2 separate regions of the Homo sapiens genome follow, and region 1 is linked to region 2. The links come from fine-mapping of genetic effects on gene expression. A gene starts in region 2. The other region holds a variant in brackets. All regions are shown on one strand. Distances are between the middles of the regions.

Region 1 (5,382 bases), 510 kb after region 2:
AAACTTGCTCGATGTCACAGATATCCATAAGTGGCAGAGCCAGGATCCAAACTTGGACCTCTTATTCCAAGTGCATTGCTCTTTTCACTACATCATGCTGCCTTCTAGAAAAATCAGCTAACTCTGTGCTTCTAGACTCTACACAGTATTCAATAACTCTGATGACTTTGAATTCAGGAAATGTCTATCAATTGGACCAGGATCTGCTTTTTAAGCTTATCTTTATTTCTAGTACTTCCTGAGAAAGAGTAAAGTATTCTGAAATATAGAAGATGGATAGGTAGAAAAATGCATATGTAAATACACAGATGATGGTTGGATAGATGGGCAGACAGACTTTTTTAAAATTTTTATGGATACATAGTAGGTATATATGTATTTATGGGGTACATGAAGTGTTTTGATACAGGCATGCCATGTATGGTAATTACATCTTGGAAAATGGGGTATCTATCCCCTTGAGCATTTATCCTTTGTGTTAAAAACAATCCAATTATATCTTTTAGTTATTGGACAGACTTTGAGTTTATTGGACAGACTTTAATTGAGCTCCTCCATCAAACTTTGTGACTTTGAAAAATAGTCACTTAGGTTTTGTTTGTTTGTTTTCTATAAAATGGCCTTGTCAAAGCCCTTCTCATGGAACTATTGTGAGAAACTACCTCTAACAGTGCCTGGTATACCCATAGACTCTTACTATTCTCCCCTTTGTGTTAAAATCATGCTTCAGAATTATGTCCAAATTCTGCAGCAAGGACCCAATTCAAATATTGTTTGAAACATCCAGAATGTCTGTTTTTGACATCAAGTTGGCCCATAGATTTGACAGCCTGGTACCCATAGAGTCCCCACCCAAGAACATTTCCTTCAAAACAAGCTCCTGTTACAGAAACGGCCCTGGTTTTAAATATACTCCCTTCTCTCATAAAAATGCCCCAGCCAGCTAAAGTCATTCTATTTAAAATATTTAATTAATACCTTCACAGAGGTCTGGAACTTATTAAAGACTCTTGGGGACCATGTCTTAGGGGCAATGCTTTGTTCTAAGCAGCTCTATGTGTTACAGATAATATAAAGTGCTGGAATGTGCTTTCTATTAAAAGCAGGGACATTTGCCTGCCTGCTGTTGCAAACCCTTTTGTCATCATCGTGACACATTAAGGCATAATCCAAGTACAACATACACACACAAACAGTGTCAATCCATCCATTGAGTAAAAAGAGTCCCAGGAAAACCACAAGAAAGGTCTGGTGATTAGATGAGGGGATTAAAAACTGGAGGAGCTCTTCCTCTACCTCTTCTCCCACCTGAAGAGGCCACAAAGGCACATTGCTCCCCAAGCAAACAAGAGCAAAAACACAAAGGCACACACTTTGCTCTACCTCCAGTATCTTCTTGGCTTCTCAGCCTTTGGCAGGTGAAAGAAACATTGGTTAAAAGTCCTACCTTCCAAGCAAGTAAACATGCTCTTAGTCCCCCTTTGTCTCACAGGCTGAAGACTGGCAATTGCTTCACATCCATTGTTGTCTGGGGAGTACATTTTTTTTTCTTATTATAAAAATGGTATAGGTTCAATCTTGAAAACCTTGGAAAAAATGTAAAAGAAAATAATTATTTTAACCATAACCCTACCACCTAGACATGACTTTGCTGCATTTCTCCCCTTCTATGTGTATACTTTCACAAAGCTGTCATTACCACACATTTACCCTTTTATTTCCAGCTTCTTTTCCCTTAAAGACATTGGGGGAAATGCTCAGGGTATCATAGTAAGAGATGAAGACTTTAAAAGAAATTAAAGCCTTTTTTTTTTTTCAAGCAGTTTTAGGTTTACAGCAAAATTGAGAGGAAGGTACAGAGATTTCCAATATACTCCATGCACCCCCACATGCAGAGCCTCCTCCATTATCAACATCCCCCACCAGCGTGGTACATTTGTTACAACTGTCAGCCAATGTTGACACATCATAATCACTCAAAGTCCATGGTTTACATTAGGGTTCACTCTTGGTGTTGTACATTCTGTGGGTCAGAACAAATGTATTAATGACAGGTATCCACTATTATAGTATCATTCAGAGTACTTTCACTGCCCTAAAACCCCTCTGTACTCTGCCTATTCACCTCTCCCTCCTCGCTAAACCCTGGCAACCATTGGTCTTTTTACTGTCTTCA[C/T]AGTTTTGCCTTTTCCGGAATGTCATAGAGTTGGAATCATACACTATATAGACTTTACAACTCACTTCTTTCACTTAGTAATATGCATTTAAGTTTCCTCATGGCTTGACAGCTCATTTACTTTTAACGCTGAATAATATTCCATTGCATGGACATACCACCGTTTATTTATCTATTCACCTATGGAAAGATATCCTGTTTCCAAGTTTTTGGCAATTCTGAATAAAGCTGCTATTAACATCTGTGTGTAGGTTTTTGTACAATTTTCAGCTCCTTTGGGTAGCTACCAAGGAGCTCAGTTGCTGGGCTGTATGGTAAGCATATTTTTAGTTTTGTAAGAAACTGGCAAACCGTCTTCCCAAATGGCCATACTGTTATATTTTGCACCCACACCAGCAATCAATGAGAGCTCCTGTTGCTTCCCATCCTTGTCAGCATTTAGTGTTGTCAGTGTTCTGGGCTTTGGTCATTCTAATAGGTATGTAATGGTATCTCATTGTTTTGATTTGCATTTCCCTAATGACAGTGATGTGGAACTTCTTTTCATATGCTTATTTGCCATCTGTATATCTTATGTGGTGAGGTGTCTGTTGAGATCTTTGGCTTATTTTCTAATCAGGTTATTTTCATATTTTGGTGTTGAGTTTTTTTTATACTTTTCTTTTGGATAGCAGTCCTTTATCAGACTGCCTTTTGCAAATATATTCTCCCAGTCTATGGCTTGTCTTCTCATTCTCTTGACTATGTCTTTCACAGAGCAGAAGTTTTTAATTTTAATGAAGTCTGGCTTATCAATTATTTCTTTCATGGATTGTGCCTTTGGTGGTGTTGTCATTTATTTTTAATTGCCAAGGATGATACCACTGTGGGGCTGAACCAACATTAATATAACCAATTATTTCCCATATGATCAACATTGAGGTTGAGATTTTCACTACTGTAAACAATGCAATGACAGCATATTGATAATTGTGCACTTTTTGGATTATTTCCTTTGGATAAATTCCTAAAAGAGAAATGGAGTCTCAATCTTGTTAGAGTATCTGATATATTTTGCTAAACTTCCATCCCCAAAAGTACCACTTTACCCTCTTACCTGCATGTGACAATATCCATCTTATCACACTTTTAAAAATATTTTTTACTAAGATACATAGATATATCTGTATTTTTTTTCTTTAAAAAAAAGGAAAAATTCATCATAAGGCTGCTGCCCTTTTTCATGCATCACGGGAGTACAGTTACTATCCCTCTTCTTACCATTCCATTTACATTAAAAAAGAACCCTGAGGGGAAACAGGGGCCTCCAAAGGGTACATCCCTCCTCCCACCTGAGTGAATTGGGAGGGAAAATTGAAGGTCTTTTACAAAATCCTAACATGGTTGAGAGCAAGGATTTAAACTTTGGCCCCTGTACTTCAGCCAAGATCTTGTAAGAGTTTATTTATTTTTCTCTATTTTTCCCTTTGATAATCAACAAATTTAACGTATTCATTTTAAATCCCACAAGTCTGTTCCCTTTCCCAGGAGCAGAATGAAGTAATCTAGTTCCCACGTTCTGACAGCATAGTTTAAGGGCCACAAAAGATGATAGCCCCCAGCCCATACAGCCAGGGATACTTCCAATAACTGGAGGTTTGCCAAAACAATCAAGCAAGAGACATTTGCACCAGAGCCTTGAAGATCGTCCAACCCTTAGCTGCCCAATTATTACCTCCTTCAAGAGTAGAAGTCTTTCCTCCACCTGACTGTAGCCATATCTTGAAATTTAATTGAACTTTGCCACCAGAAGGGTTCATTTTATTTTTAATAGAGACACAGGCAATGCTTTTCTTAAGTAGGGACAACCTAGCGGCAAAACCTCACTGTGTTCCTAGTCTTTGCATCTTATCTGAAGCTAACATGCAGACAGGGCAGGGGGCTCTCAGCTCAGTGGGTGCTGTGCATCTTATGCTTTGGAGGTTTGGATGGGGCAAGACTTGGGAAGAAAGTACCTTCAGCCTTACGGTCCCTAAGTGACAGTGACCACATAAGGTGTATCCAAGTCCACTGAGAATCTCAGCTACATTTCATGACATAGCTATAAAACAGTTCCAAGTACTAATTCGTTAGTCTTGGGTTTTATGCTGAGTGACTCTGAAATATCTGATTAAAGAGGCTAGCTTCAGTTTCCACTCTGAAAACCTGGCTTGAATTTATTGCTGCCTCACACAGGATTGCCTCAAGCTGGGTCTCTCCACTTCAGTGGCAGGCAGGTTAACTATTTCACTGCTGGATGCTCTGTCCCTCACTGCCAACCCACCCCCAGCCCCCTTCCTAAACTCTCATCCCACAGCCCCGGGAGCGGATTCTGCAAAGGGCTTATAAAGCACAGAGGGAAACTGACCATCTGGCCTGAGTGATCTTTTTTTGAAGGGTAAAGAAGATATTTAGAAAGAGTCCATTGTAATAAACACATTTTCAAAATTGTTTTAAAGTACTTAAAAATACAGAGATAGAGATAATTTTCTGTTTAAAAAAAGACTTTTAACAGCCAAATAATTCTCATTGGTATTTTATATAAAACACATGCGTAAGTTTGGAAAGTTTCAATCACACAGAAAGGTACAAAGTTAAAGGTATAAAAATAATGTAAAGCCTACTTTACCCATCAGAATAAACATAAAACCCAGTATATGCTTATTCTTATAGGTAAATTACTCTTGATTTAAATATGTACATTTTGTTTGAATTATGCTGGGTCTCCAGGAACACAATCCTTATATAAAATGAGATAGCCCTGGACTATTTTCACTTCTCTATTTTATAGAGGAGGAAACCAAGCTAGAGAGAGAAGAAACAAGTAACTTGCCTAAAGTCTCAGGGATAATAAGCAGCAGAGCAAGGACATAGTCCTAGGTGGGATCCCAGAGACACGTATGAGCTCACCTGGGTCACGACAGTAACTGCCCAGCAACCCTACTGCCAGTCTCGGTGTCCACCAGCCCACAATGAGTCTTATGATCATACCATGCCTCTATCCAACTACTTAAATGACTCCCCACTTCATATACCCACACTGGAGAGTGGATTGGATATGGAAAACACCATTTAGCACAAAGTTATTTAAAGACATGCATGTTAAAGAAAGCGGATTCTACCAAATAGGATAATACCTTTTTTTTTTTTTTTTTGAGATGGAGTCTTGCTCTGTCACCACGCTGGAG
Region 2 (5,382 bases):
CATTTGCTTCACCCATTTTTCTACTTGGACGTTGAATTTCATGAAAACCACATAGCAAAAATAAGCTGTTAAGAGAAGCAAGCTTTCCCACCACATGATGACATTATCCAGGAAAAATATGATCAGCATGATCAAGTCAACAATGTAGAAAGACACATCTCGAAAGAGCGGCCACCATGTCAGGTTTAAGATTTCTCTAGAAAACAGAGCACACATGCCAATAACAAAGAGGATGTTGAATACTGCTGAACCTACAATTGTGCCTATGCCAACGTTGCTGTGAGCGATAAATACCCCTATGAGAGATGTGAAAAGTTCTGGGGCTGACCCTCCTGCAGCCATGAAGGTGGCTCCAGCCACATCATCAGAGATGCCCAGTTTTTCAGTGATGACAGTCAAAGAAGGAACAAAGAACTCATCACAGACAATGGCTAAGGCTATGAACATGTAGATCATTCCAATGACATGCAGAATGATCGCACCTTTTCTTCTCTCCTCAAGGGAAAAGATGTCTTTCGGGTAGTCTCCTTGGGCGTGATCTGTACTATTCTCAGACTCGCCTTCCTTAGAAAGAGGTGGCTGTGGAGTATAATCCAGAATCTTGTCATTTAAATCTAAGAGAGTTCTCTGATGGTAACCCTGTGCTACCCTAGGGCCACTTACAACACTGGCCTCTCCTGTGCTCTGTGTATCTGTCTCAGAAAAGGCACTGATTGAAAATGAGACAGTGCTAATGGCTACCAGACCCATGAAAAGGCCTAAGACTCGAATTAACTTCAGTTTTTTCTTGACACTATAATGTCTTCTGCAGCCAGACAGTGACTCATCCAAACACCATTTCTCTAGGGAAGTGATGGTGGTGCTTTGTTGCAGATCCATCCTGGGTCTTCTGGTGGATATGGTGATCTTCCAACTTTAGACTCAACCAGATGGTTCTTTCATACTTTTCCTTACTTTATAGTTAACGATGCTTGTGGGGTACTTTCACAATCAGGGATTGTTATGCTTCACAGGAAACTTTCATCATTTATGCTTAAATAAAAATAAAAACGAGAATAAGTAAATCATAAAATCACGTCTTTTTAATAAAGATCTTTGCAGATATGATAAAGTCCTGTCCTGCAGCTGTGCGATCTTGGGTAAGTTACTTAACTTCTCTGTGCCTCAGTTTCCTCATTTAAAATGGGGACAATTACGGTACCTACCACCCAGGATTGTTTTCAAGATGAGTAAAAACATATGTAGCACTTAGTATGGGATGTGGCACTTATGAAGATGTATGTATAAACCCAAATAAATATTTTGGTAAATCCAATGTTAGGTGCAGAGAAGGCAGATGTAAGAATAAAAATTTTACAGGTGAAAATCTATCAGATTATCTCACCTTAAATCATGTAATAACCTTCCAGTGCTATAAAGGTACCTAGACTTCTTTCAGAACTGTCTAGGTACTTGGCAACTAACAATTATTCATTGTTTACTTTTGGTCCAATTACATAATTCTCAGTTGTAGGCAACTTTTTCTGATTTAACCTATCATTTGGAAAGTGAGTGATTCTTTAATTTAGTGATCTTTTTTCTGCACACATAATGATATCAGATCTTATTTTTCATAAAAAGTCTCTCCTTTATCAGATGCGGGAAAGTAGTCCTTTACAAATTTAAGTTTACAAAAAAAAATTCTGGTGACATGCACAAGCTGCCTTCCCTAAACATCTAGACATTGTTTTCAGCTAAATATTTTTTTTAAAAAAACAACCTTTAGTCATATTTAAAATAGGCAGCTTAGTAAGTCAAAGAACTCCCAATGCAGTGAAATAACAAGTAGGCTATTTCGAGAGACCACATGTGTATTTCATAAACAATACGCAAGTTGTAGCAATACCTCTGTCCACAAAATCTGCCCAAAATAGCCCCACCACTGACTTTAATAGGTTAGATATCCAAAGCAGAGTTTTCTTTCTCTATCCCACGGAGGAGATGGGTAAAATAGCCAGACTTGACAGCTGATATTCTGAAGAGTTCTCTTTTTAGTTTTTCTTTAAAAAGACTATTCTTTTCCATATCAACGATTTCATTTTGGAGGCAGTCGCTGAGATAATCTCAGGTGTAAAATAAGCTAATTAAACACACGCCACTTAAATACTGAGATTAGCTGGAGCTCAGGTTTTCAGAGCAAAGCAAGAGCACAAATCAACCCCGCTGAGTTGCTGCTACTCCTGAGATAACCCGACCCCATCACGGAGATTCCCAGGTGGCTGCGAACGTCAACGCTTAGCAGGAACGATTAAGCGATTCACAGCACTCAGGGGATTGTGTAAATGCCCGGCCCGGGCGACCAGCAGGGACAGATTCAACTCCCCGGGCGCAAAGTCATCTCCAGCCCGATCCTCGCTCCCCCTGAAAACCCACCGCTCGTCTCCCCGGGAGCTGCCTCCGTAGGAGAATGTTCGCCCCCAGCCGCGCCCCAACTTTGCCTTGCGTGGTCCCAAACTTTCCCTGGTGGATTAATAGGAAAATAAATCTAAAGGACAGACGCCCCACCTGTGAGCTTGGAGCTGGGTTGCATTTGGTGAGGCGCTTGGCCCGCATCCCCCTGAGTCGTTTGTAGGTGGCTGGGGAATGGAAGCGCCCCTCTGCGCGTCTCCCCCGACGGCAGGCCCTGCCCCACGCCCCCCATCCCAAGCCAAAAGCAAGGGTAGGAGAGGCGGGGGCTCCAAATCCACGCCCCGGAGCACAGAGAGTTGGCTAACTCCTAGCGGGGCCTGGGGCGCCCACATCCACGGCAGAGCCACCTGTGAGCCTGCAGAGCAGCAACGGGATGCGCGCAACCGGGATGCGGGGACGACCGCCACAGCGGCTACAGCGGCAGGCGGGGCGCAGCCGCCCGCACTTACCAGGATAAGATGGGAGGACGCGCACACGGCGGGGCCCCCGAGCGCGGCCCGCCGCTCCAGTCCGCCGGCCCTCCGCCTACCCGCTCTGAGGCCCGGGCTCTGGCTCGCACTGGCTGCCGCTCTCGCCAGCCGGGCTGGGTTCGGGAGGAGACTGAGCCGCTGTGAGCCCGGCGCTCCGAGTCTGGCGCTGCCCGGCCCCCGCCGGCCCCTCCCTCTGGGCTGTGCGCTGTGCGCTGGGAGCGGGGCCGCAGCGCGCTCAGCTCCCGAGTCCTTTGCTCCACGCCTCCTGGGCGCAGAGGCGACGCTGGCAGCCGTCTCTTAGGAGATTTCTCCGCAGTGTGGACGGGGGTCAGGATTTGCAGGCGAGCAAGGGCAGAGAGGAGAAATCGTACAGGTCGGTGACGCGCCTAATTCACAAAGCCTGAAAGTGCTGTCAACTTTGGGGTCATCTTATGCTGGGCACCGCCTCTCCAATTATCTGCAAAAAGTGATAGCAGTCGCGCTTTTCTTTAGGAGGCGATGTGATGTGTAATGGTGGAAAAGACGTTCAATGAAAAGGCACGGAGGCCTGCAGGACAGGCTGTTGGGGTCCAGGGTTTCTTGAGTGTTGGATTTGGATGCTTGGGACACTGCAGGGGCTTCAGTCTTGCAGGGTGACCTTTCATTTCATGGGTGATGAAAGTGAGACCCAAAACCCCGTGTCATTTTGAATCACTGACAGGCTTCGGCTTTTGGCCTCGGGATGTCCAGCCCAGTGCTCCTTCCTGTCCTATCTGGAAAGCAAGATCCCCTTGACCACAAGAAATAGAATCAGGCTTGTTGGGGATGAGAGACTAGAATCTGGGCCAAAGAATGGAAGACGGTGGTAAGACAAATTGGTAGTGAGGGAACCCCTTTTACCCAACCCTGTGACCACCAGCAAAGCTGCCAAGAGGTACCCAACTCGTGAAGCTCTGAAAGCTTTTCGCACATTTTCCCCTCTCCTTACCCTCCATCCTTCTGTTCTCTCCCCCATCCAAGAGGGTTTCTTCATGCCCTCCTTACAATGGGGGTAATGGGTATATCCTGAGAGCTCATGACCTCTGACTTAGAGTACAGCTCTGTAGTCAGACCTCTGGGCCTACTCATCAATAAGTAAAGGGAAGCCTAGGGAACTTAGAAATATTTTTCTTCCCCCCACCCCCCAATCAAAGCCAGGCATTCAAGACTCAACTTTTCTTTTTCTTTCTCCTTTCGAGACTGAATCTTGCTATGTTGCCCAAGCTTGTCTTGAATTCCTGGGCTCTAGCCATCCTCCAGCCTCAGACTCCCAAGTGCTTGCAGACTATAGGTGCCTGACTGAATTTTTTTATCTTTAACTTTTAATTTAGAAAATTTCAAACATATACAAATGTAAGAAAGTAGTATAATGAATCTCCATGGGGCCATAACCAGCTTGAACAATTATGAACTCATGGACAGTCATATTTCATCTATACCCCTTTTTCCTATGTCATCATTTTGAAGCAAATCCCAGAGCATCATATCATTTTATCTGTAAATATTTTCAGAAAGCAAGAAAACTATCAACTACCACTAGGGTTGTGTCAAGAAGGGGACAATTCAAATAGGCTGTCACTGACCAAAGACGGGCTAATTTGAGCATCAAAAAAAAAAAAAAAAAAGATAATCGCAATTGTTTAAAACACATCAAACATGATTATATCTATTAATTGATAATATTTTAAAAACAACTGAACAGATTGATTGCTTGATGGTTCAGAGGGAACCAGCTCATAATTTTCAAAACTGTTTTAGGAAAAGGAAAACAATTGTGCATTTATTTTGCCTTTTCTATACAAATTGGACCTCTGGGTAACCAATTAGGCTTTATTTTTACCCTGCCTTTGTCTACTTTCCTAGTTTAACAATCCTATTCTTCCCTGAGGCAATAGGTGCCTCTGGCTACATGGGGTGCGGAGGGGAATATCACAATGTCTAGAAGAGTTTTTCTTATGTTATCTTCTAGAATTTTTATGGTTTCAGGTTTTTCCCCTACAGCTCAGAGATGACCCTGAGTCTTGATTCGGTGAGAAGAGGAATGAGATCCAGATGAAGACCTCATGAGTCCATAGATTGTATTGGCTGGGATTTGCACTTGGTTGCACATAATAAAAATTCATTCTTGGTGATTAAACCAAACAAGAATTTATTTTTCTCATGGTAAAAAGAAGTCTGAAAGCAGACTGCCCAGGGTTTATAAAATAGCTTCAAGATGCTATCTGGGAACCCAGATCTTTTGATCTGTCTTTCTTAATGTATGGCTTTATCCTCATGGCTACAAAATGGTTTATTCTTTTGCATTACATCTGTGTTCCAGGCAGGAAGAAGGGAAAGAGTGAAGGGTGAAAGGCAGAAGGCCTCCTTGCTAGGCTTTGTCTTTTTATTTAGGAAGGGATTCTGTCAATGCTTCACTTACATTTCACTGATCACGACTTGGTCACAA

Which allele goes with the higher level. Alleles are on the strand shown, and positions count from the first base shown. SD is a standard deviation of normalised expression in the study named.
With allele C in place of T in region 1, the expression in regulatory T cells of the gene that starts at base 3,050 in region 2 is lower (large effect, 0.87 SD a copy in Schmiedel 2018).

The links. PIP is the estimated chance that this variant, and not a neighbour inherited with it, causes the effect. A credible set is the group of variants that fine-mapping cannot tell apart.
Region 1: its variant is the best candidate, but not a certain one, in a credible set for the expression of SLC24A2 in regulatory T cells (Schmiedel 2018, PIP 0.83).

The regions. Positions count from the first base shown.
Region 1 is chr9:20,299,779-20,305,160 of GRCh38, forward strand. It overlaps a transcript of SLC24A2 not described here. Among named protein-coding and RNA genes, the nearest start is that of MIR4473, 110 kb to the right of the region's middle. RefSeq lists an enhancer at 2,289-2,966. The variant C/T (reference allele first, on the strand shown) is at 2,177.
Region 2 is chr9:19,785,988-19,791,369 of GRCh38, forward strand. It overlaps SLC24A2 (solute carrier family 24 member 2), which reads right to left and starts at 3,050. Exons shown (of 11, transcript NM_020344.4): 1 at 2,898-3,050; 2 at 1-1,032. The coding sequence starts at 879. It overlaps LOC124902128 (a long non-coding RNA gene), which reads left to right and starts at 3,172. Exons shown (of 2, transcript XR_007061432.1): 1 at 3,172-3,291; 2 at 4,938-5,073. RefSeq lists an enhancer at 1,966-2,613.